Linked DNA regions of Homo sapiens: region 2 is linked to region 1. A link means that fine-mapping ties the variant in region 1 to the expression of a gene that starts in the linked region. Tissue or cell type: whole blood. Region 1 holds a variant in brackets; the other region holds the start of a gene. All regions are shown on one strand. Distances are from middle to middle.

The links. PIP is the estimated chance that this variant, and not a neighbour inherited with it, causes the effect.
Region 2: it holds the start of REEP5, and the variant in region 1 is the best candidate, but not a certain one, in a credible set for the expression of REEP5 in whole blood (TOPMed, PIP 0.62).

The regions. Positions count from the first base shown.
Region 1 is chr5:112,695,005-112,706,586 of GRCh38, reverse strand. No RefSeq gene overlaps it. Among named protein-coding and RNA genes, the nearest start is that of APC, 37 kb to the left of the region's middle. RefSeq lists an enhancer at 2,141-2,435 and a silencer at 2,141-2,435. The variant A/G (reference allele first, on the strand shown) is at 6,054.
Region 2 is chr5:112,916,595-112,927,334 of GRCh38, reverse strand. REEP5 (receptor accessory protein 5) reads left to right here and starts at 5,108. Exons shown (of 5, transcript NM_005669.5): 1 at 5,108-5,262; 2 at 6,079-6,172. The coding sequence starts at 5,145. It overlaps LOC105379123 (a long non-coding RNA gene), which reads right to left and starts at 4,948. Exons shown (of 3, transcript XR_948675.3): 1 at 3,679-4,948. RefSeq lists an enhancer at 3,586-3,705 and silencers at 4,838-5,107, 5,468-5,917.

The DNA.
Region 1 (11,582 bases):
TGGGAAGGAGATGTGGTCGGGGTAGGCAGAGGCCAAATCAGGTAGGGCCTCCAGGTCATGGTAAGAAGTTGGATTTTATTCAAAATGGCCCTTGTATGTTGTTGACGCTGTCTCCCCTAGCCCCCACTACTCCTCTTCAAACACTTCTAGCTCCCGACTGCCTTTCTGGTTTGTATATGCCCCCTTGACTACCTAGAAGACACTTCTTCTTGTTCTTTAAATGTCTAACTTCTTATCTTTCAAGTTTCAGTTTAAATATCACCTCAGAAAGACCGTCCTTCCTAAGAATAATAAATTTTCCCCTGTCTTCCTTATTATTCTCAATCATTGCACCTTATCATTTCTTCCATGGTACTCAATATGTTTTTAAATGATCTATGTTTTGTTTCTTCACTGCCTCCACACTAAACAGTCGACTCCATAAGACAGGGAATACGTTTTGTTTACCAATGAATACACAGTGCATAGCACCATACCTGGCATGAGTGCTCTGTCACTCAGTGTTTGTTGATTTAATAAGTGTGGAAGTTTGTCAGCATCTAAGTAGTTGGTGGTGTACTATATTGGTTTCACTTGGTTTTTAAAATGAAATGCAAGTCACTTCTTATTTATATGTCTCCTCAGCTAGAATATAAGTAGGAAGGTTGGAGAGAGAGCAGATGGGATGGAGAAGGGTGGGTGATTGTGGGACAGTGGGCAGGGTTTATATTACATATGTTGTAGTATGGAGAGAAGGAAGGCTTCAAGTTAATGCAATCCCTATTATATGTGCTGTGAACTATGTTAGATATGAAATCCTCACCACAGCCCTGCTAGATAATTATCCTCACTTTTATACATGGGCAAATTCAGAGAGATTAAGTCCCTTGCCCAAGGTCTCACATTAAGGGATAGTGCTGACCATAAAGCCCATGCCCTTCCCATCTAGAGAAATTGGATTTGGAGACAGGCTTACTCAGAGATTTGATTCTGTGTCATTAGCAGGCTTTCATTAGAGATTTCATTCAGTTACCCCCACTTAAGGGTCCCAGTCGTATTACTATCCCTGTGTAGGACCTCAAAGGGCCTGCCTGGAAACTACTGTCGTTCTTTTCTTTTGAACTAGAGCAGAACTCATTTTAGCATTTTCCTTTTAATGTTTTTTAAATTCTGTATTTATTTTTATTAATAACATATATATTTTCATTAAAGGAAAAGAAGAAATACCAGCAAAATGGATACATAGTCTAAAGGCTAGCTGCATCTATTGGTTAGGCTTCTCAATGTGCCTAGATGGGACTTGCTGGCCCATCTAGGACCCAGCTGATACCTTAGACCCCCAAAGACCCTTCTGGAAAAGAGTTATAGGCTCACTGCAACAACCTCTTCTTCCATTGACTTATCAGAATTACACACCATCATTTCCCCTCTAAATGGGATAGCTGCCTCAGGATGGCTGGGGAGACCTGCCAGAAAGGATGGGGCTGGCATCTTATCTGTGGGGGCCATTTAGTCCTTATATGAGAGAAGAGATTCACTGAACCCATAACATATGCTCTTCAACCAAGCCCTATCAGTCCATATGCAAATCAAGTAGTAGGTAGGAATATATACTTGAAAACACTTCCCCGCCTTCTACCTCACTACAATGTAATCCTTGGAATAAATCCTAGAAACAAGACAAAGTCTTCAGTTTCTATGGTATTTACTTCTCTTATGGTTACCATCTGTTAGAGACTGAATTGTACTACTCCGAAAAAAGGTATGTTGAAGTTCTGACTTTCAGTACCAAACAATGTACCCTTATTTTGAAATAAAATTATTGCAGATATAATTAAGATAAAATGAGGTCATACTGCAATAGGGTAGGATAACCCACCATGACTACTGTCCCTTTAAGAAGATGACCGTGTGAAGACATAGACAGAACGTGAGGATGCCAGATGAGGACAAAGGCAGATTGGAGTTATGCAGCTACAAGCCAAGGAATGCCAAAGACTGCCAACAAACCATCAGAAGCTAGGAAGAGGCATGCATGGACTTTCCTACAGGTTTCAGAGGGAACATGGCCCTGTGGACACCTTGACTTTGGATTTATAACTTTCAGAACTCTGAGTCAATAAATGTCTGTTGTTTTAAGCCACCCAATCTGTGGTACTTTGTTATAACAGCTCTATGAAATTAATACACCATTTTATCTGGCAGGGCCTGAAATAGAGGAAAGAGATGTTGGCAGGCAGTGAGAAGGCTTGAGCTACCGCTCCAGTATGAGCAAGCCAGCTGCACAACCTCAAGCCAGTCGCTGAACAACAGTTTCCTCATCTGTACAAACAGAGATAATGACAGCCACCCTGCCTACTTCAAAGATCTGCAGTGGTAACTAACAAGTATTCCTCCAGTGATGCTGTGACCAAGGTCTGACAGATACTAAGAAACAATTATGTAAAGACAGGGTTCCTGCCACAGGGAATTTTACAGTCTGGCTGAGAAAACTAGACACTTTCCTATGATAAGATAAATAGTATGGGCAAAGTGCCAAGTGCGTGGTTTGGATCTTATTCACTATTGATGCTGAAAAAGGGAAGGATCCTGTGGACTGGGGTGGAGAGGGAGACTTCATGAAGGGCCTTAGCAGAAAAGGAATTTATTAGAAGGATATTTGACATCTACAGGATCTTCAGGAACAACACGCAACATTATGCCCGGAACTGGTCCCAAGAAGCCATCACTGTAGCCACTGCTGGATGCAAATACCAAAACTGAGACTGCCAGTACCACTTGACCCAGAGTGGATGATGCCTCTGCTGCTTCTGGAAGATAGATGCAGTTACTATCACTGCCACTACTCTCAACAGAATGGAGGGTCACTTCATATTCACAACATTAGCTTTCAACCTCAAGCCTAGAATGGGGGCAAATCATGGATATAACCTAGTAACACATTAACACTCTACCTACATGCTGTCTGATAGAAATATAATGCAAGCCACATACATAATTTTAAATTTTCTAGTAGCCACATAAGACAGTTTAAAAACAAAAACAAAAACAAAAAACCAGCCTCTAATCCAAGCAGTTTGGGAGGCTGAGATGGGAAGATTGCTTTAGACCAGGAATTTGAGACCAGCCTGGGTAATATAGTAAGACATTGTCTCTACAAAAAAATATTAGCTGGGCATGGTGGTGCATGCCTGTAGTCCTAGTTACTCAGGAACCTGAAGCCGGAGGATCACTTGAGCCCAGGAGTTCCAGGCTGCGGTGAGCTATGATTGTGACACTGCACTCCAGCCTGGGTGACGGGGGGGAGACCCTGACTCTAAAGCAAAACAAAAACCAGGTGAAACCAATTTTAATAATATATTTTATTTAACCCAATATATCCAAAATATTTCAACATGTGCCACTAGACATACGTCAAGTGCTCAGTAGCCACGTGTGGCCAGTGGCTACCATGTTTGACAGCACAGCGGTAATTGATAGGAAGGCCAGGAAAATGAGCATATGAACTTCTAATTTCGATAGTGAGAGGGAATTTCTGCTTCATGAGGAGGGCAATCTCCTAAACACAGTAAGAGAATTAAGACATAGTCTTACAAATGGAAAATAAAGTTGAAGGAAAACCAAACTGGATTGTAGAGAATGGAAAATGGTAAACTAAGGACATTTAATTTCATCATGTAGTGACTGAGAGCCACTGAAGGTTTGTGAAATGGGGAAGTATTTTGAAAATTTAATAAAAGTACCATGAAGGGGTAGGTGATAAAAAACACTTGAAGTTAGAATTTCTGGGCTTAGTTATGTTTTTTTTTTTTAATCTGTGCAGCTTTATACAAGTTGTCTCTCTGGATTTTTCTTCTCATCTTCAGACATGGTGCTTATAATATCTATCTCAGGCTTGTTGTGTTGTGAGGATTAAATGAAATGGTACATATGAAAATGACCAGCACCTGGTGCATTATTTAGGGTTCTCCAAAGAAACAGAACCACTAGAATATATATGAGATTTATTATAAAAATTGGCTCATGTGGTTATAGAAGCCAAGAAATCCCACAATCTGCCATCCATAAGCTGGAGAACCAGAAAAGCTAGTGGTGTAATTCAGTCTGAGTCTGAAGGCCTGATAATCAGGGTGCTGACAGTATGAATGCCGGTTTGAGTCTGAAAGCTCGAAAAAACAGGAGAGTTAACGTCCAAGGCAGGAGAAGATGCTCACCCACATTGGTGAGGGAGATCTTCTTTATTCAGTCTATGAATTCAAATGCTACTCTCTTTCTGAGACACCCTCACAGACACACCCAGACATAATATTTTATCACTTATTTGGGCGTCCCTTAGCCCAGTCAAGTTGACACATAAAATTAGCCGTCACACTTGGCAAGCACTCAATACATGATACTTAAATCTGAATGAATCTGAGTATCCAGTTAGAGGTCTAGATAGATAGTAAGGAGGTTGGATTATTTCCTAAATGTCAAGAGGAGCTCCAGGGTAAAAACCCAGAAAATATGTATTTTAGATATCTCAATTCTGTCTCAGCGTCGACAAGTTAAAATGTGTACTTGTTTTTTGCCTAGACCATGTCTTCCTTGAAGCCCTTACTGGTCATCCCTGGCCAGAGGTCATCTCTGCTTCCATGGCTTATTGTTCTCCTTTAGGTAGTATTACATTGCCATGTGTTGGCCTCATGTCTTGTCTTCTTTACTATAATAGATACATACATGAGGGCATAGGCCATATCTTATTCATATTTGTATTTATCTCCTACAATTTCTTGAATTGAAAGTGTCCAAACAAACAGAAGCTGGATGATGAGTACCATGAGTATTCATTATATTATTCTTACTACTTTTGTGTATGCTTGGAATTTTTCATAATAAAAAGTACTTTTAAAAAGACATCCAAGAAACTTCTGCTGCTAGATGGGGGGCTAAGTACCAGTGTTTACTTCCTTCTCCTCTGTATATTCCACTAAAATATCAGTAGCAGGACTTAATTTTTGATGAAACTAATGAATGTTAAGCTTCAAGGCTCTTCACTTGCGTGGGCCCTTTTCAAGGTCCTGGAAAATGCCTTAGCAATATGTTCATAAGTTTTTGTAAAATCTGCAAAAGTAGTATCTCTTAATCACAATTGGTTAAGGGCATTTCTCTTTCCACTTTGACTTACTGTCTGTCACAGGTCTGTTTTGTCAGGTGGTATTAGAGTAGCTGTAATAACTTTGGGTTCCAGCTAAGGGGAAGTTGAGTTTAAGAGACATTTTTAAAAATTTGGTCAGAGGATATTTATGTGATTCATAGTTATGTCTGTGTCTAGTATCTTATTGATAACTATCTTAGTGGAGTAATAACTTCCAGGAGTACTTCTACAGTCCAGTGCCTGACTCTGTCTGCATTCTAACACAATGGGGCAGGACCAGAGTTTGTGTTGTAACATGAACATGTTCTGTGGCACCTGAACCCGAAGTATGTATACAGCCAGAAGTTAGTCTATAGAAAATTCTTCCAAACTTTATAGCACATATGGAAAATGAACGTGTAGGTAACACGGAAAAAGAAAAGACATGATGGAAATTTTCCCAAATGAGATAACAATCTTAAGAAATCACAAGCCATTACTAATAACAAGTTGTCAAGCTGAAAAAAATCTAAACTATCAATAATAAAAATTTTGTGATTAACCATGTTAGAAGAAAGACAATTATATTTCTATTCAATCTATTAAATTATAATAAAACAAAATCACCACTTAAAGAGCATCTAGAAAAAAATTTAGGACAAAACTACAGAGGTATGTCAGGCAGTAAAATAATGCACTTGTGTTATTTTTCCAGGTTTTGTGATGCTTGTGGATTTTGTGTCAGCATTCTAGATTTATTTTTTCATTCTAAAGAAATATTTACTTTTTCACCTAAATTTATATTCAAACGTTGTATTTTTTTTTTCAAATTCAATGCCTTATCATGGGCCTCTGCAATTACAGTTAGAGACATCAACATCCCTCTCTCAGTAATTGATAGAACTACTAGGCAGAAAATCAGCAAATACATAGAAGACTTGAACAACAGAATTAATCA[A/G]TAGGATCTAACTGACATTAATACAACACTCAGTAGAATACACTTTTTTTTTTTAAAGCATCCATGACACACCACATCTTTGGCCAGAAAACAAAACTATGCAGAATATGTCCTCTGAGCATAATGAAATTTAATTAGTAATCAATGAGAGAAAGGCAATGGGAGAATCTCGATACACTTGAAAATTAAATGACACACTTCTTTTTTTTTTTTTTTGAGACGGAGTTTTGCTCTTGTCGCCCAGGCTGGAGTGCAGTGGCACGATCTTGGCTCACTGCAACCTCCGCCTCTCGGGTTCAAGCGATTCTCCTGCCTCAGCCTCTCGAGTAGCTGGGATTACAAGCGCCCACCACCACACCCGGCTGATTTTTGTATTTTCAGTAGTGACAAGGTTTCACCATGTTGGCCAGGCTTGTCTCGAACTCCTGACCTCAAGTGATCTGCCCACCTTGGCCTCCCAAAGTGCTGGGATTACAGGCGTAAGCCACTGTGCCTGGGCTAAATGACACAATTCTAAATAATACCTCAGCAAAGAGGAAGTCTCAAAGGAAAGTTTTAGAAAATATACAGAACTGAATGGAAATGTAAATACAACATATCAAAATTGGTGGAATGAAGCTAAGGTGGTGCTGAGAGGGAAATTCATAGCACTAAATGACTACATTCAAAAAAATAAAATGATTACCTTAGAAAAGATCCCAAATTAATCACCTAAGTTTCTACCTCAAGAAAAATGAAGAGCAAAATAAACTCAAAAAAAGCAAAAGGAAGGAAATAATAAAGATAAAAGCAGAAATCAATGAAATTGAAAAGAATAACAATAGGGAAATCAATAGAACATGAAGCTGGTTGATAAACCTCTAGCAAGCCTGACAAAATAAAAAGAGAGGGGGCACAAATTACCAATATCAGTCATGAAACAGGATATAATTATAATTCTTGCAGCTATTAAAAGAATAAAAGGGAATACCATGGACACATGTACACTTATAAATTAAACAACTTTAGAAGAAATGGACCAATTTTTGAAAACCGTAAATGACCAAAGCTCAAACAAGATGAAACAGAATAGTCCTATAACCATGAAATAAATTGAACTGCCACTAAAACGCTCTGGAAAAAGAAATCTCCAAACCCAGATGGTTTCACTGGAGAACTCTACCAAACATTCTGAGAAGAATAAGCTCTGATTTTAAACATTCTATCCTAGAGAATAGAAGAAGAAGGACTACTTCTCTATTCACTTTATGAGGCCAGTATTACTTTGATACCCAAACTAGACAAAAACAGTAGAATAAAAGGAAATTACAGACCAATATTTCTCATAAACTTAGACACAGAAATCCTCAACGAAACATTGTTTTTTCTTGGAATCCATGGGGAATTGGTTTCAAGCTCCTGAGAATACCAAATTCCACAGATACTTGTTTCTTATATAAAATGGCACAGTATTTGCATATAATCCAGGCATATCCTCTGTATATGTTAAATCACCTCTAGATGACTTTATAGACATGCTCTGCTTAACGACAGGAATACATTCTGAGAAATGCGTTTGGTGATTTTGTTATTGTGCAAACATCATAGCATGTACTTACACAAGCCTAGATGGTATAGCCTAGGACACACATAGGATATATGATCTAGCTTATTGCTCCTAGGCTACATACTTATACAACAGGTTACTGCACTGAATACCGTAGGTAATGGTAACACAATGGTAGGTGTGTGTATATTTAAACATAGAAAAGTTACAGCAAAAATATAGAATGATAATTTTAGGAAATCATCGTTGTATATGTGGTCTGTTATTGACTAAAATATTGTTATGCACTTCATGATTGTAATACCTAATACAGGATAGATGCTATGTAACTTGTTGTTATACTATATTGGTTTTTATTTTTATTATTTTCATTGTTATATTGTTATTTTTATTGTTCTTTTTCTAAATATTTGTGATCTGCAGTTGGTTGAATTTATGGATGCAGAACCCACAGATATGGAGGATTTTGAGTGTACTAGAAAATCAAACCCAATAATATATTTAAAAAAAATATGACATGGCAAGTAGGATTTCTCCCAGGTATGCATGGCTAGTTCAATATTCGAAAATCAATGTGATCTACATTATCTACATACAACAGGCTACAGAAGAAAATTCATGTGTAATCACATCATTTGATACAGAAAAAGCATTTGACAAAATGCAACACCCTTTCATGATAAAACCTGGGTCTGTTCCCTGCCCAATAACTGCATAAAAGGGAATAAATTTGTGACTATTGAGAATGAAGAATGTTCCATCAGCTGATGAGAGATTTGGCAAGTGTCTAGAAGACAAGAAATGATGGATGAACCAAGGTGGAAGACATGCTCCAATCCAGAACATAAACTGCCTTATGGAGAGGCCCACCTGACGTGGAATTGAGGGAGGCCTCTGCCCAAAAGCTAGTGAAGAACTGAGGTTCTTAGTCCAACAGTTCATGAGGAACTCCCTGCCATCAATCATGTGAGAGAGCTTGGAAGTGACTCTCCCAGTCAAGGCTGCAGATGATAGCACAGACTTGGCTGAAAGCTTTATGAGAGACCTTGAAGCACGGGTACCTAGGTAAACCATGCTCAAATTCCTGACCAATAGAAACTGTGAAAAAAAAATACTTCTTGTTATAAGCTGCTAAATCTTGGTATAATTTGGAAGGCAGACATGAGAAGGTATGAATTCCATTTCCAGCAGTAATTGAATTGGTCATAGAGCAAGTTTGAAAATCTTTATGACACCAATTATACATGTTTCTTCTTTTTTTGTTTCTCTTGTGCCTGTATCAACATTTCACTCATGATACACTAAGCTTCCCTTCTTTTAAGCTCCACCTATTTCTTAAAACTTTCCAATTAAAGTGGCTGAATGCAATAATCAGCCAGAGACTCTGTGCTTTTCTGTCTAATGACAAAAAAAAAAAAAAAAGGAAAACTCTCCATCTGGGTAGAAATTGATAATTAGCCATATCCAATTCCTGGACATCTGGCTTTTAAATGAAACTGAGCATAGCAATGTCTCCTCCCTCGGCATTATTTTACTGAAAGTGCTACGTATTCTTCTAGTACTTAAAGGGACAGCACCAATGTAACTTGAATATCAAGTTACTAAAGATTTGTCTCAATTGTTTTTCATACTACCAAAATCTTAGCTGTTTATCATAGAAAATTTGGAAACTCCAGAAAATCTCAAGAAGAAAGAAAAAAATCTCACCATTCAAGATAAGAATTGTCACCATTTTGGTGGTGCTCTTTCCAGGTTTACTTTAAAATGAAAGGCATTTCAGAATAACAATATTGCCCTCTACAATAAATCCTCATTTTATAAAAGCATATTTTAATGAATAAAATTTAACAAAGAAAACCAAATCATTTATTTCACTGAAATTCACATCAATATCTTGACACAGTTTATGGTTTGGCTGATGACATTGATAATCCGCCCTAACAACCAGTCTGAGTAGCTCAGGGGAACATCCCACAAGACCAAAGCAGCCCCAGCAGCACGTTGAGAGCGGTGGGGCTCAAGAGAAACAACATATGTTTGCATCCGCTCTCCCTTCATGCTGCTACAGCTCCCCCGTCATTTGGGGTTGGGGAGGGATCCAGAGACTTGCACCAAGATCTTTAGTAGACTGGAACCAGCTTAAAGAACTGAGAGAAAGTCAGTTTAGAGATTTTATGAGTTGGCAATTACACACAGCTATTATTAAAAATTAAATAATATAAAATTGCAATTCAATAAATTATATTGAAAACAAAGGTAATAAGCACTCAAAACTCATCACTTTCAAATCATTTTCTCACATTTAACCATTTCCTATGCTCCTGATGCCATTCCATCTCTTGTATCTAAATGGTGGAAAAACTGTATAATGTTCTAGGGCACATCTACTCAAAACACTAAGTTCAATGATGTCACATTGGTAGTTTGAAATTGGCCAGAGCGAGAGCATTTACACCAGGGAACTCAAGAAATGCTCAAAATCTGGGCTTGACTTATTGTTTTGTTGATAGTCTAGTGATGGAGAAAATGTTAATGCTGTACATTAAAGTTAAAAGCGTGTCACGTCTATTGCTCTTACTTTGCGAATAGCACACAGATTGAGGAAATATTATTCCGGTATTTAAAAACCATTATCAAATTCTTCCAAGTCGCTCACATTATAGACAAATAAATAAAGTTCTAACATATATCTTTGTTGTTTCATTTTCATCTTACTCATTAATGACTAAGAAAATATCAGCCAGGATTCTTGTCAAAACTACACTTGTTTGTTATTTATAATGATAGGTTGGCTACAGATACAAAAGTTCAGCAAAAATCAATGAAACAATCATGGGCAAAAATCAGGAGAATTATTGGCTATATGAAAGTCACATTAAAGAACATTTTCTGTTTTGCTAATATTTATACACTATGTGCTATATACTCTTTTTTCTCTATTTTTTCTTTTTGTTTGTTTTTTTTTTTTTGAGATGGAATCTTGCTCTGTTGCCCAGGCTGGAGTGCAATGGCATGATCTCGGGTCATTGCAACCTCTGCCTGCGGGTGCAAGCAATTCTCCTGTCTCAGCCTCCTGAGTAGCTGGGATTACAGGCGTGTGCCACCATGCCCAGTTAATTTTTGTATTTTTTTTTTTTTATTAGAGATGGGGTTTTGCCATGTTGCCTTGGCTGGTCTTGAACTCCTGACTTCAAGTGATCTACCTGCCTCAGCCTCTCAAATTGCTGGGAATTATAGGCGTGAGCCACTGCACCCAGCCTGTGCTATATACTCTTCATATCAGTAAAATTTAAAAGAAACTTTAGTTTGTGTGTGTGTGTGTTTGTGTGTGTGTGTGTTTGTGTGTGTGTGTGGGTGTTTCAGAGAGCTGGTTACTAATCATTTACCAGTGTACTACTGATTAGAAGCAAATGCTTCCTTTTGCCCTACTCGACTTAGCCCCCAGCTAATCCCTTTCAGCAAGGTTTCAGCTGATGAATAAATAGGAAAAGTAAGTGAAAGAAAAATAAGGGCTGCAGGAAATAGAAGAGGGAGGAAGAATATAAAAGAAAGACAGGAAGGAAAAGAAAGATAAATTTCTCCCTGACTTGCCTGTGTACATCTTTCTTTCTCTTTATCTTTTACCATCAGCCAGCAGCTGTCTTTGAGAAAGGAGACAAACCATTGCACAACCCTTTAGGAGTCCTGGAACCACAAATATGTCAGGGATTAGCTGGTAACCCCACTCATAAGAGAGCTAAGAGGCCAGCAGTCTCCACCAACAATGACCACAGTGATCTGGGTCAGAGTTTTTTGTTTTTGTTTTTGTTTTTTTAAATTGAGCTGTAATTTATACACAGCAAAATTCACCATTTAAAAGTATAGTTTAATAAGCTTTGACAAATGCAGACAGTCATGTAACCACCACCACAATCAAGATATAGAACTTTTTTGTCATACCCAAATGTTCACTTGAGCCTATTCGTGGTCAACCCCTCCCCATT
Region 2 (10,740 bases), 220 kb before region 1:
TCGGTGACAGAGCCAGACCTTGTCTCAAAAAAAAAAAAAAAAAAAAAAAAAAAATTACACCTAGCTGTGTTTTTTTTCTTTCTTAAATTATTTAAACACTTATTTTGCATCAAGTACTCTTCTAAAAACATTACAAATAGTAACTCACCTAACCATGATGAGAACTCTGTGAAATAGGTACTATTTTTATCCTTGTTTTACAGATGAGAGACCAGAAGCACAGAGAGCTTATGCAACTTGCCCAAAGTCACATAGCTAAATGGTAGAGCTGGGATTTAGCTCATACAGACTGAATCCAGAGATAGAACTCCACACTATGCCTCACTATACTGCTTTGCCTCACCATTGGTTGAATGCTTGAAGAAAGAAGAAATTTGGAATCTATGTCAAGAGAAAATTGAAAAGAGCAATATTTACAGAAAGAAAGCCAAGGGCTGGGCACAGTGGCTCACATCTATAATCCCAGCACTTTGTGGGGTCAAGGTGGGAGGATTGCTTGAGCCCAAGAGGTCAGGGCTCCAGTGAGCCATGATGGTGCCGCTGCACTCCAGCCAGGACAACAGAGTAAGATCCTGTCTTGAAAAATAAAAAAATTAAAAAAAAAGGAAGAAAGGAAGAAATGCAAATGAACAATATGTTTCTAGATATTCCATGCATAGTTAATGTAGTACAAATGTTGCCACTGCATGAAATGTAGTGACAAAAACCTAGGTTGATTTGGATACCTAACTTAAAAGGATTTTGCTCCTTTGCTAAAATAAATAAATAATAAATAAAACAATCAAATTGTGAGGCTGGGTGTAGCGGCTCATGCCTGTAATCCTAGCACTTTGGGAGGCTGAGATGGGCGGATCACTTGAGCTCACAAGTTTGAGGCCAGCCTGGGCAACATGGCAAAACTCCATCTCTACAAAAAAGTACAAGAATTAGCTGGGTGTGGTGGTGCACACCTGTAGTCCCAGCTACTTGGAAGGCTGAGGTGGGAGGATGGCGTAAGCCCAGGAGGTGGAGGTCAGTGAGCCAACATTGTGCACTGCACTTCAGCCTGGGTGATACAGTCAAACCTTGTCTAAAAAAAAAAAAAAAAAAAAAAAAAAATCAGGACCGGCACTGTGGCCACCTGTAATCCCAGCACTTTGGGAGGCTGAGGCAGGCAGATCACTTGAGGTCAGGAGTTCAAGACCAGCCTGGCCAACATGGTGAAACCCCATCTCTACAAAAAAATACAAAAATTAGCCAGGCGTGGTGGTGTGCACCTGTAGTCCCAGTTACTCAGGAGGCTGATGCACGAGAATCATTTGAACCTGGGAGGCTGAGGTTGCGGTGAGCCAAGATCATGCCACTGGACTCCAGTCTGGGTGACAGAGGCAGACTCCATCTCAAAAAAAAAAAAAAAATCAAATTATGAATCACTTTAAGTATTCAAAAACAACCCCAACTTAATATACATACTGTACTCAGTAGGAAATTATACAAACTCACAACTGGTTTGAAGTTTACAGTTCAGTTATTCTGCTAAGCAGCTGTACTAGTTTCCTAGGGCTGCTGTAACAGTCTCACAAACTGGGTAGCTTAAATAATAGAAATTGAGGCCAGGTGCAGTGGCTCATGCCTGCAGTCCCAGCACTTTGGGAGGCCAAGATGGGGAGATCACTTGAGGTCAGGAGTTTGAGACCAGTTTGGCCAGTGTGGTGAAACCCCATCTCTACAAAAAAAAAAAAAATTAGCTTGGCATGGTGGCACACACCTGTAGCCCCAGCTACTTGGGAGGCTGAGGTGGAAGAATTGCCTGAACCTGGGAGGTGGAGGTTGCAGTGAGTGGAGATTGTGTCACTGCAGTCCAGCCTGGGTGACCCAGTGAGACCCTGTCTCTAAATAAATAAATAAAACAGAAATTTATTATCTCACAGCTCTGGAGGCTGGAAGTCCAAGATCAAGGTCTCAGCAGGATTGGTTCCTTGTGAGGGTTGTGAGGGAATGATCTGTTCCAGGACTTTCTTCTTGGCTTGTAGATGGCCATCTTCTCCCTGTGTTTCTTCACAGTCTTCCCTTTATATGCATCTGTCTCCGTCCAAATTTCACCCCCCCTTTTTTTTTTGAGACAGAGTCTCGCTCTGTTGCCCAGGCCGGAGTGCATTGGCTTGATCTCGGCTCACTGCAAGCTCTGCCTTCTGGGTTCACACCATTCTCCTGCCTCAGCCTCTTGAGTATCTGGGACAACAGGTGCACGCCACCACGCCCGGCTAATTTTTTGTATTTTTAGTAGAAATGGGGTTTCACCGTGTTAGCAAGGATAGTCTCGATCTCCTGACCTCGTAATCCACCTGCCTCGGCCTCCAAAGTGCTAGGATTACAGGTGTGAGCCACCGCGCCTGGCCAAATTTCCCATTTTATAAGGACAACAGTCACACTGGATTGAGGTCCACCCTAAGGAGTTCATTTGAATTTGACTACCTCTTTGAAGACCCTATTACCAAATAAGATCACACTCTGAGGTACTGTAGGTTAGGATTCCAACATGTCTTCTTTAGGGAGGTAGAATACAATTCAACCCATAATAGCAATGTAATATAGGGGTAAGAGCCTGATTCTGAATTCTAGCTCTGCCACTTATTGTGATATGGGAACTCACTATGTCTCATTTTTTTTTTCCTTAAATGAGGATGAAACAGGTAGCATCTTCCTCATGCAGCTGTGAGGATTAAATGAACTAGTCCACGTAACACTTGGAATACTGGGTGGTACAACACATGTTAGATATTCATTCATTCATTAATTCAACAAATAGTTATTGAACAACTACTAAGTGCCAGGCACTGTTCAATGTGCTTAAAATATTGAAGCAAATAAAATAAGCAAAAATGTCTACCCTCACGGAGCTCATAATCTAGTGAGGAAAGAAAGATAATTTAAAAATAGAACATGGTCTGGCATGGTGGTGGCTCATACCTGTAATCCCAGAACTTTGGGAGGCCAAGGTGGGCAGATCACAGAGTTCAAGACTGGCCTGGGTAACATAGTGAAACCCCATCTATACTAAAAACAGAAAAAATTAGCCGGACATGGTGGCACACGGCTATGGTCCCAGCTACTTGGGAGGCTGAGGTGGGAGGATGGCTTGAGCACAGCAGGAGGTCGAGGCTGCGGTGAGCTGTGACCACGCCTCTGTACTCCAGCCTGCGTGACAGAGTGAGACAGTCTCAAAAAAAAAAAAAAAAAAGTAGAACATAATGCCAGACAGTAATAAATTCTATGGAGAAAAATCAAGCTAGAGACCACTGGGGGTTGCAATTTGAGATTAGGGGTACCATTTGAACAAATATCTGAATAATGGAAGGGGACAGTTAAATGGTTAACTGGGGAAAGATACTTTCAGATAGAGGAGGGTTTCTGGACTGTCACATTATTGACATTTGGGGCTGGATAATTCTTTGTTGTGGGGGCTGTCCTGTGTGTTACAGGATGTTTAGCAGCACCCCTAGTCTCTAACCACTAGATGCTAGTTGCACTTGCCACCTCCTGCTCTCCTTGTGTGACAATCTGTTTCACAACGAAAGTATCTCTAGACATTGCTACTCCTCCCCCCAGGAGGAAGAAGGGGAGAGGAAGTGCTCCTGGTTGAGAACCACTGAAATAGAAGAAAAGTGAACGAACGCCCAGAGGCAGGAATGGGCTTACCTTGTCTGAGGCACAGCAAGGAGGGAGGCAGTAAGGGAAGACATCAGAAAGGGGAGGGATGAACCATGTCACCTGTGACCCTGATGCCCTCCTTCAGGCAGATAGGAAGTTGCTGGAGGGTTGAGAACAAAAACATAGCACAACTTGACGCACATTTTAAAACAGATTCTACTGTCTGCCACATTGAGAATTAACTGTAGGTGAAAAGACAGAAGTAGACAGCAGGTTGTTTCACTTGTTCACTGATTTGGCTGGGTGGTGGTAGGAACAGCTGAGAAAGCTGAGCTAAGAAGCTCTGAGGAAGAAAGGAGGAAGGAGAATTAGCATAAAAGGAAAAAGCTAGGCGTGGGCAAGATAACTTTTTGCAGAAGTGGAAGGCAGTAGGGTAATTAAGTAGATTTGAAAGCACAGAGGGGTTGTGTAGGACCAAGACAGAATGTTCGGGGCCAGTTGTGGGCAGGGCATTGAATGCTCTGCCAAGGAATGGGAGCTCTAGTCTGTTAGGATAATAATACGGAGCTTCGGACAAAAATTCTGCAGCAGTGTGCAGAATAGGAGTCAACAAGAGTAATTTTAGGAGTGTCTGGAAGTCATATGGGTGAGATAAGAGGAGCCTAGGTTTAGGTGGAGGAAGAGCATGGCCAACTCATTCTGAAGGAAGCAAAAATGAGCTCCTGCCCTAAGGCTTGGACCTTAGAATCTCCGTCTTCTTCAGAGTATTTTGACTGTAGGAAGTGCAGAGTATATTGGCTCCACAGAGAGAATTTGGACACTTGCCACAGTATCAGACACCAAGACAACGCAAGCCCACCATGAAAAGATTTAATGCAGTTTTTGCTTGGAAAAGGTGTACCCCAGGGAGGATGTGTTAGATTTCTTCAAGGGTCTTTACAAGGCAACGATTGTCTGTAGGTGAGAAAAACTGCCAAGTTAAGGCAAAGAGGGAGAAAGCAGGACTGCTTCCAAAGAGTTCTTTCACGATGCTCAAACATTTCAATTTTTTAGGTCAAAAATGCCTTAGGTTTAGCACAGCAATGTAGGTGCCAAACTCATCGCAGTGAATTGCAGGCGGGAGCAACAAGGACGCCTGCCTCCTTTCTGCCTGCTTTTTGCAATAGTCCGATTTGAGAAGGGGACCCACGAGAGACACAAAATGCACGCCCCCACGCCACATCCTTTTTACCCCGCAATGGGTTAAGACTGTCAACAGGCAGGCCACCTCGCAGCGTCCGCGGAGTTGCAGGCCCGCCCCCGCCAGGGTGTGGCGCTGTCCCCCTGGCGCTGGGCGGGGGAGGAGGGGCGCGCGGCGGCCGAGGAGGGGCGCGCGGCGGCCGGGCGGGGCGAGCGGAGGCGAGTGGAGGACGCGTAGACGCGCCGCGGTCCCCGCCTGCCGCTGCTCCGCCGCAGTCGCCGCTCCAGTCTATCCGGCACTAGGAACAGCCCCGAGCGGCGAGACGGTCCCCGCCATGTCTGCGGCCATGAGGGAGAGGTTCGACCGGTTCCTGCACGAGAAGAACTGCATGACTGACCTTCTGGCCAAGCTCGAGGCCAAAACCGGCGTGAACAGGAGCTTCATCGCTCTTGGTGGGTGGCCGGGGGTCGCCGCCGCTGGTAGGGCCACGGGAGCCGCCGCTGCCCCAGCTGCTGGGGAAGGAAGCAGGGAGAGGACTCGGGAAAGGTGGAGTCGGAGACAGACGGGACAAGCAGCATATTCAGGGATCAGGCTGGCCTCCCGGAAAGCGTGGGCATCGGAGGACCCCGCGGGGGCTGCCCAGGCTGAGGGTCGCGGGGCTGGAGGGCAGCTGCGGCGCCGGGCGCTGGCAGCTGGAAGGGCCAGCGCTGACGTATGTCTGCCCCGCGGCCCGGCGCCCTATTCCTGCTGTCCTGCGCGGTGGGCGCGGACGGCGGGGCCCCTGCGGGCGGGCGCGTTGACGGAGGTACCCGGTCCTACCCGACCCTCCGTGGAGCTCCGCCCGGAGAGGGCGCCTCTCGGGTGGGCGGGGGCTGCTACTGCAGCGTGTGCGGGAGTCCGGGCCTCTCGGGACGCTCCCCGCTGAGCGCAGCTTCCCAGGCTGGAGCGCTGCCCAGCAGGCCCTGCGAGAGGGCGGAAGCGGGTGCCTGGGACCGTCCCGGGCGCCGGGGGTTGCTGCGCAAAGCGCCGGGGCCCCCTGCGGGAGGTAGGAGAGGCACAATGGTGGGGCTGCCTGGTATCCCCAGACTTCAAGGCATAGCCCAGCGGACGCGCAGGCCCAGCTTTCGTGTGGTTTGTTTTTCTCGCTCCTTTAATCGAGTCGAGAGGAAAACTCCTACAACAGGCCCAGCCTCGCGGTGTGGGCGGCGGCTGTCCCGCGTGAACGGCTCTCATGCTGCCCGACCCACTTCTCTCCTTGTGGTCCCCAGGTGTCATCGGACTGGTGGCCTTGTACCTGGTGTTCGGTTATGGAGCCTCTCTCCTCTGCAACCTGATAGGATTTGGCTACCCAGCCTACATCTCGTAAGTGACACACCCTGCAGCCGTCCCCTTCCCTTCCTCCATTCCTCCCCGCAGGGCTGCTGCAGTAGACTGCACATCCGCAATTCCCGGGAGAAAAGTGAAAGCTCGGCGGGGAGGGATGAGGTTGGACATAAGGGGTGGGGATAGTATTCACCATTTTGGAACCTTAACTTAATCCCTATCTCTTGACGATTAGCCCAGAGGTATTTTCATTAGATTATCCTGGTGACCAGTGTCCCCTCTCTTTGGCACACTAACAGGAAAGCGCTACCACTCTGTCGTCCTCCCTTTACTGGTGGGAGGATCTCAGAAGGTACAGGGAGCTGAGCACTTCTGTCTAGTAATTATTTTAATGAGTATTTCACCATATATTTATGCACCTAGAGAGTAAAACCCTATCAATTAGGTCTTCCTTAATTCATAATTACGTTAATTGAGACAGTAGGGAGAATTTTCTCATTTTCTTTTATTTTGAAAAAGCCACATGTTACAGACAAACTTGGGAAATGCTTACCCTAGTGTAAAAACAAAAACCTTTAAAAATGCTCCATGATATAGCTCCTTGGTTATATAAGTGAGTCATTTATATAATTGAGCTACTTAAAAAATGAATTTTTACGATTAGGATCTGAATTTATTACCAAAGTTGTTTTTATTCTACAATGTGTTTATTTTTTTTAATTCTACGATTTTATTTTTCCATTCGTTCAAGTAGGAATTATTCCTCTCCAGAAATGAATTTTGTTTTGCTCTACAGTTCTTCCTAAGAAAGCCAGTGGTTTTTACCTTCATTCAGTTGGTCTCTGCTACTTTCTTCAACCATAGGGATAAAAATAAAGGAAGAAAAAATTTTCACCTAGGAGGCTAAGACACAGATAACACATTATTACAGCTTGTATCTGTCACTAGTTAGGCTAGAATTTAGTCTATGACTATAAGGGAAGAAACATGTTTTAGAAGTTAGTTCTGATTTGAGCAATTAAATTGCAGTTACCTAGTAGTTGTTACTGTGTTAGTCCGGTACAGACACTTAGTCATACTCCAGAAAGTCTAGCTACATATAGCCCTGAGGCCTACCCCGGGCTCTGCTTTATGGAGGAGACTCAAGGAAAAACGGGATTGTGTGCACAGAATAAAGCATACAGACCCCCGTGAGCAAATATTCAGGCGGTCGGTGTTACATTAGTCTAATCAAGTCTGTTCATTGCATAACCAATATGATTGTATAATTGTCCAAAAGAAAGAAAAAGTATTTGAAAATGGTGGTCTTTAGTAGCATCAAAATCCATGTTGCTTAAAGTGTGACCTGTGAACACTGTCTTAGTCTGCTTGGGCTGCTATAACAAAATACCTTAGACTGGATAATTTATAAACAATAGAAATTTATTGCTCACAGTTCTGGAGGCTGGGAAATCCAGGACCAAGGCACCAGCAGATTTGGTGTCCGGTGAGGGCTTGCTCCCTGCTTCAAAGATGGCATCTTCTCACTGCTTCCTCACATGGTAGAAGGGTCAACTGGCTCCCTCAAGCCTCTTTTATAAGGACACGAATCCCATGCATGAGGGCAGAGCTCTCATGCCTGTTTCTTTTCTTTTGAGACAGAGTCTCGCTCTATATTGCCCAGGCTGGAGTGCAGTGTCGTAATCTCAGTTCACTGCAACCGCCATCCCTGGCCGCCCCCACCCCCGCCAAATTCAAGCAATTCTCCTGCCTCAGCCTCCCTAGTAGCTGGGATTACAGGCGTGTGCCACCACGCCTGAGTAATTTTAGTATTTTTAGTAGAGATGCGGTTTTGCCATGTTAGCCAGGCTGATCTTGAACTCCTGACCTCAGGTGATCCACCTGTCTCAGCCTCCCAAAGTACTGGGATTACAGGCGTGAGCTACCACACCTGGCCAAGCCCTCATGTCTTAATTGCCTCCTAAAGGCACCACTATTTAATACTAATACATTGGGTATTAGGTCCCAACATATGGATGTTGGGGGAACACAACATTCAGACCATAGCAGTCACCTTCATTTTAACTATTCTCCATACCTCTTGTAACTCTTATGCTCCCTAGCCAGAGTTATTTTTTAAAATACAGGTTCATCTATTTAGCAAAAATCAAATGCCAGTCACATGTGTGGCACTGTGGTAGCACTTTAGATATGGCAAGAAATAAGGTAGTCATACTCTCTGTCCTTGTTGAATGAGCAGTCTACCCAGGCAAGAAATAGGCAAAGTAGTGACCGTGTGGTAAGCCCTCTAAAGTAAATAAACAGTTCTGGTAGAGAAGACCTGAGGAATGAGAAGGGGCCAGCCAAGAGCAGAGCCAGGGAGAGGGAGAAGAGTGTGTCAGGCCCTGAGGCAGCACACAGCTTAGCTCTGTGTGAGCAAAGAGTGGTGGGGGAGGCACCAGAGAGGTGCAGGTGCCAGCAGGTAGGGTCAGTGGTAGAAGTGTGCATTTCATTCCAGATGGTGGTAGGGAGTTTGCATTTTCTGATTGCCTTGGATGGGTTTTAAATAGGGGGTGACATGATACGATTTATATTTTAAGGTCACTTTGGCTGCTGTGACCTCTGTAAGGAGTTCGCGATCTTGCCAAACTATTGCCAGTAATTTACTTCCTTCCTTTCTCACCTTTCAGCCTTTCTCTTGCTGTTTCCTCTCCTTGGGCCATCACAAGAAGGGGAGTAGTGTCAGTATTGGGTCAAGAGACTGCAGGATGCAAAGATGAAATTGGGAAAAGCTCACTTGGCTTCCTAGCTTTTCTCCCTTTGGACTCCCTTTGGAAGTCTGTGAGTGAAGCTCAGGTGCACCTGGCTCCTGGTCAGGGTCTGCTGCACGTTGGAGCATGTAGATGGTTGAAGACTTGCCCAGTGCTCACTGGGGAGCAACCAGTACCTTATTGTATACCCCTCTTCCTACTGGTTGTTCTTTCCGTGTGCATAATTTCCCTTTGAGCTCTTTGAGAACAGGGTCTTTCATCTCTGACTTCTAGTTTCTAGAATTTTTGGCCATCTTATATAGGCAATTCGGAATCTAATTCCAGCCTTCCTTTCATCAAGAACTGTTGACATAATTACCTTAATCTCCTTACTTCCCTCTTTTACTGATAACAGGAGGCAGACTACTGGAAATGTTTATTATAAAGATAGACCTCCCCCCATTGCTAAGATATAATTTAGATACTTATAAATTGTACACTTTTAAAGTATGCAGTTCAGTGGCTAGTATGTTCAGAGTTGTGTAACCATCACCACTGTCTAATTCCAAAACATTTTTATCACCCCAAAGGGAAACCATCACCAATCACTCCCTATTCCTCCTACCCAGCCCCTGGAAACCACTAATCTGCATTCTGTTTCTATGAGTTTGCCTATTCTGAGCATTTCATGTAGACGGAATCATACAATATATGGCCTTTAATGTCTGGTGCAGCCCTGCTTCTAATGGGATTGCACAAATAAGAGTCCTCTGGAGGGTGTATGCTGTGCTGCACCCTCATATGTGAGTAAGTCCTCCTGGTGCAGTCCCTCCAGGGTGGGCGCTAGTGAGCCAGGGCCCTAGTCCTGTACTTGCTCCTTTGTACAAATGGAATTGTGAGGCAAACTCAGACTTTATCTTCTATTTAAGGAAAGGGGAAGGTTTGCTTTCTGTCCTACCCAGTAACTTTTTTGCTTAAAATTCTATAAAAATGTCTATTACTTTTCCTCTTTTTATTTCATATTTTCCTTAAGACTTGGGCTGCCACCTTCCTGGGACTATCAGAGTTGGGCCTTAAAGATCAAACAGGTAGTCCAGTTCCTTTAGTTTTAAAATGACAATTCAGGGACAGAGAAAGGTGGAGTGTGTTTCCCAAGGTCACACAGAGGCCAGGCTTGGTCTGGAACTACACAGGAATGTAAAGCACATTTAGGCATATTTTAGTGCCAATGTTAGAAAGATTAAATATGTTTAGGGGGCGGGGCATGATGGCCCACATCTGTAATCTCAGCACTTTGGGGTGCTGAGGCAGAGGGATTGCTTGAGGCCAGGAGTTCAAGACGAGAGTCCAGCACTATATATTTAATCTTTAACAACACTTTTGAAATCTCATACCCAGTTCAGTAATGTGTCATTTTAGTTTCTGTGTGTCCTCACAAGCCCATTTTAAACTTTTGCTGCTGGTGTAAAGAGTTATATTGCATTTAGCTCTTTGTATGACTCCTGAAATCTGTGTAGCATTTTATTTAACAGATATGTACATATCTCTGTCTAAGTGCTTTGCAAATATAGCTCATTTAATCCTCAGAACAACCCTATTATGTAAGTGCTATGATTATTCCCATTTTTACAGATGAGGAAACACAGAAAGAGAATTTGAATAACTTGATCAAGGTCTCACAACTAGCAGATGATGAAACTGGTATTTAAATCCAAAGAATCTGGCTCCAAATTTCATGCTTTTAATGATTACGTTATGCTACCTCCCTTGTGGCTCTTTGAATGTCCCACAAACACAACATCACCTTATGTAGAGATGAAAATTAAAAAATGTAGGCCTTTCAAAAAAACAGTTGACCCTGTCAATACATTACCTTTG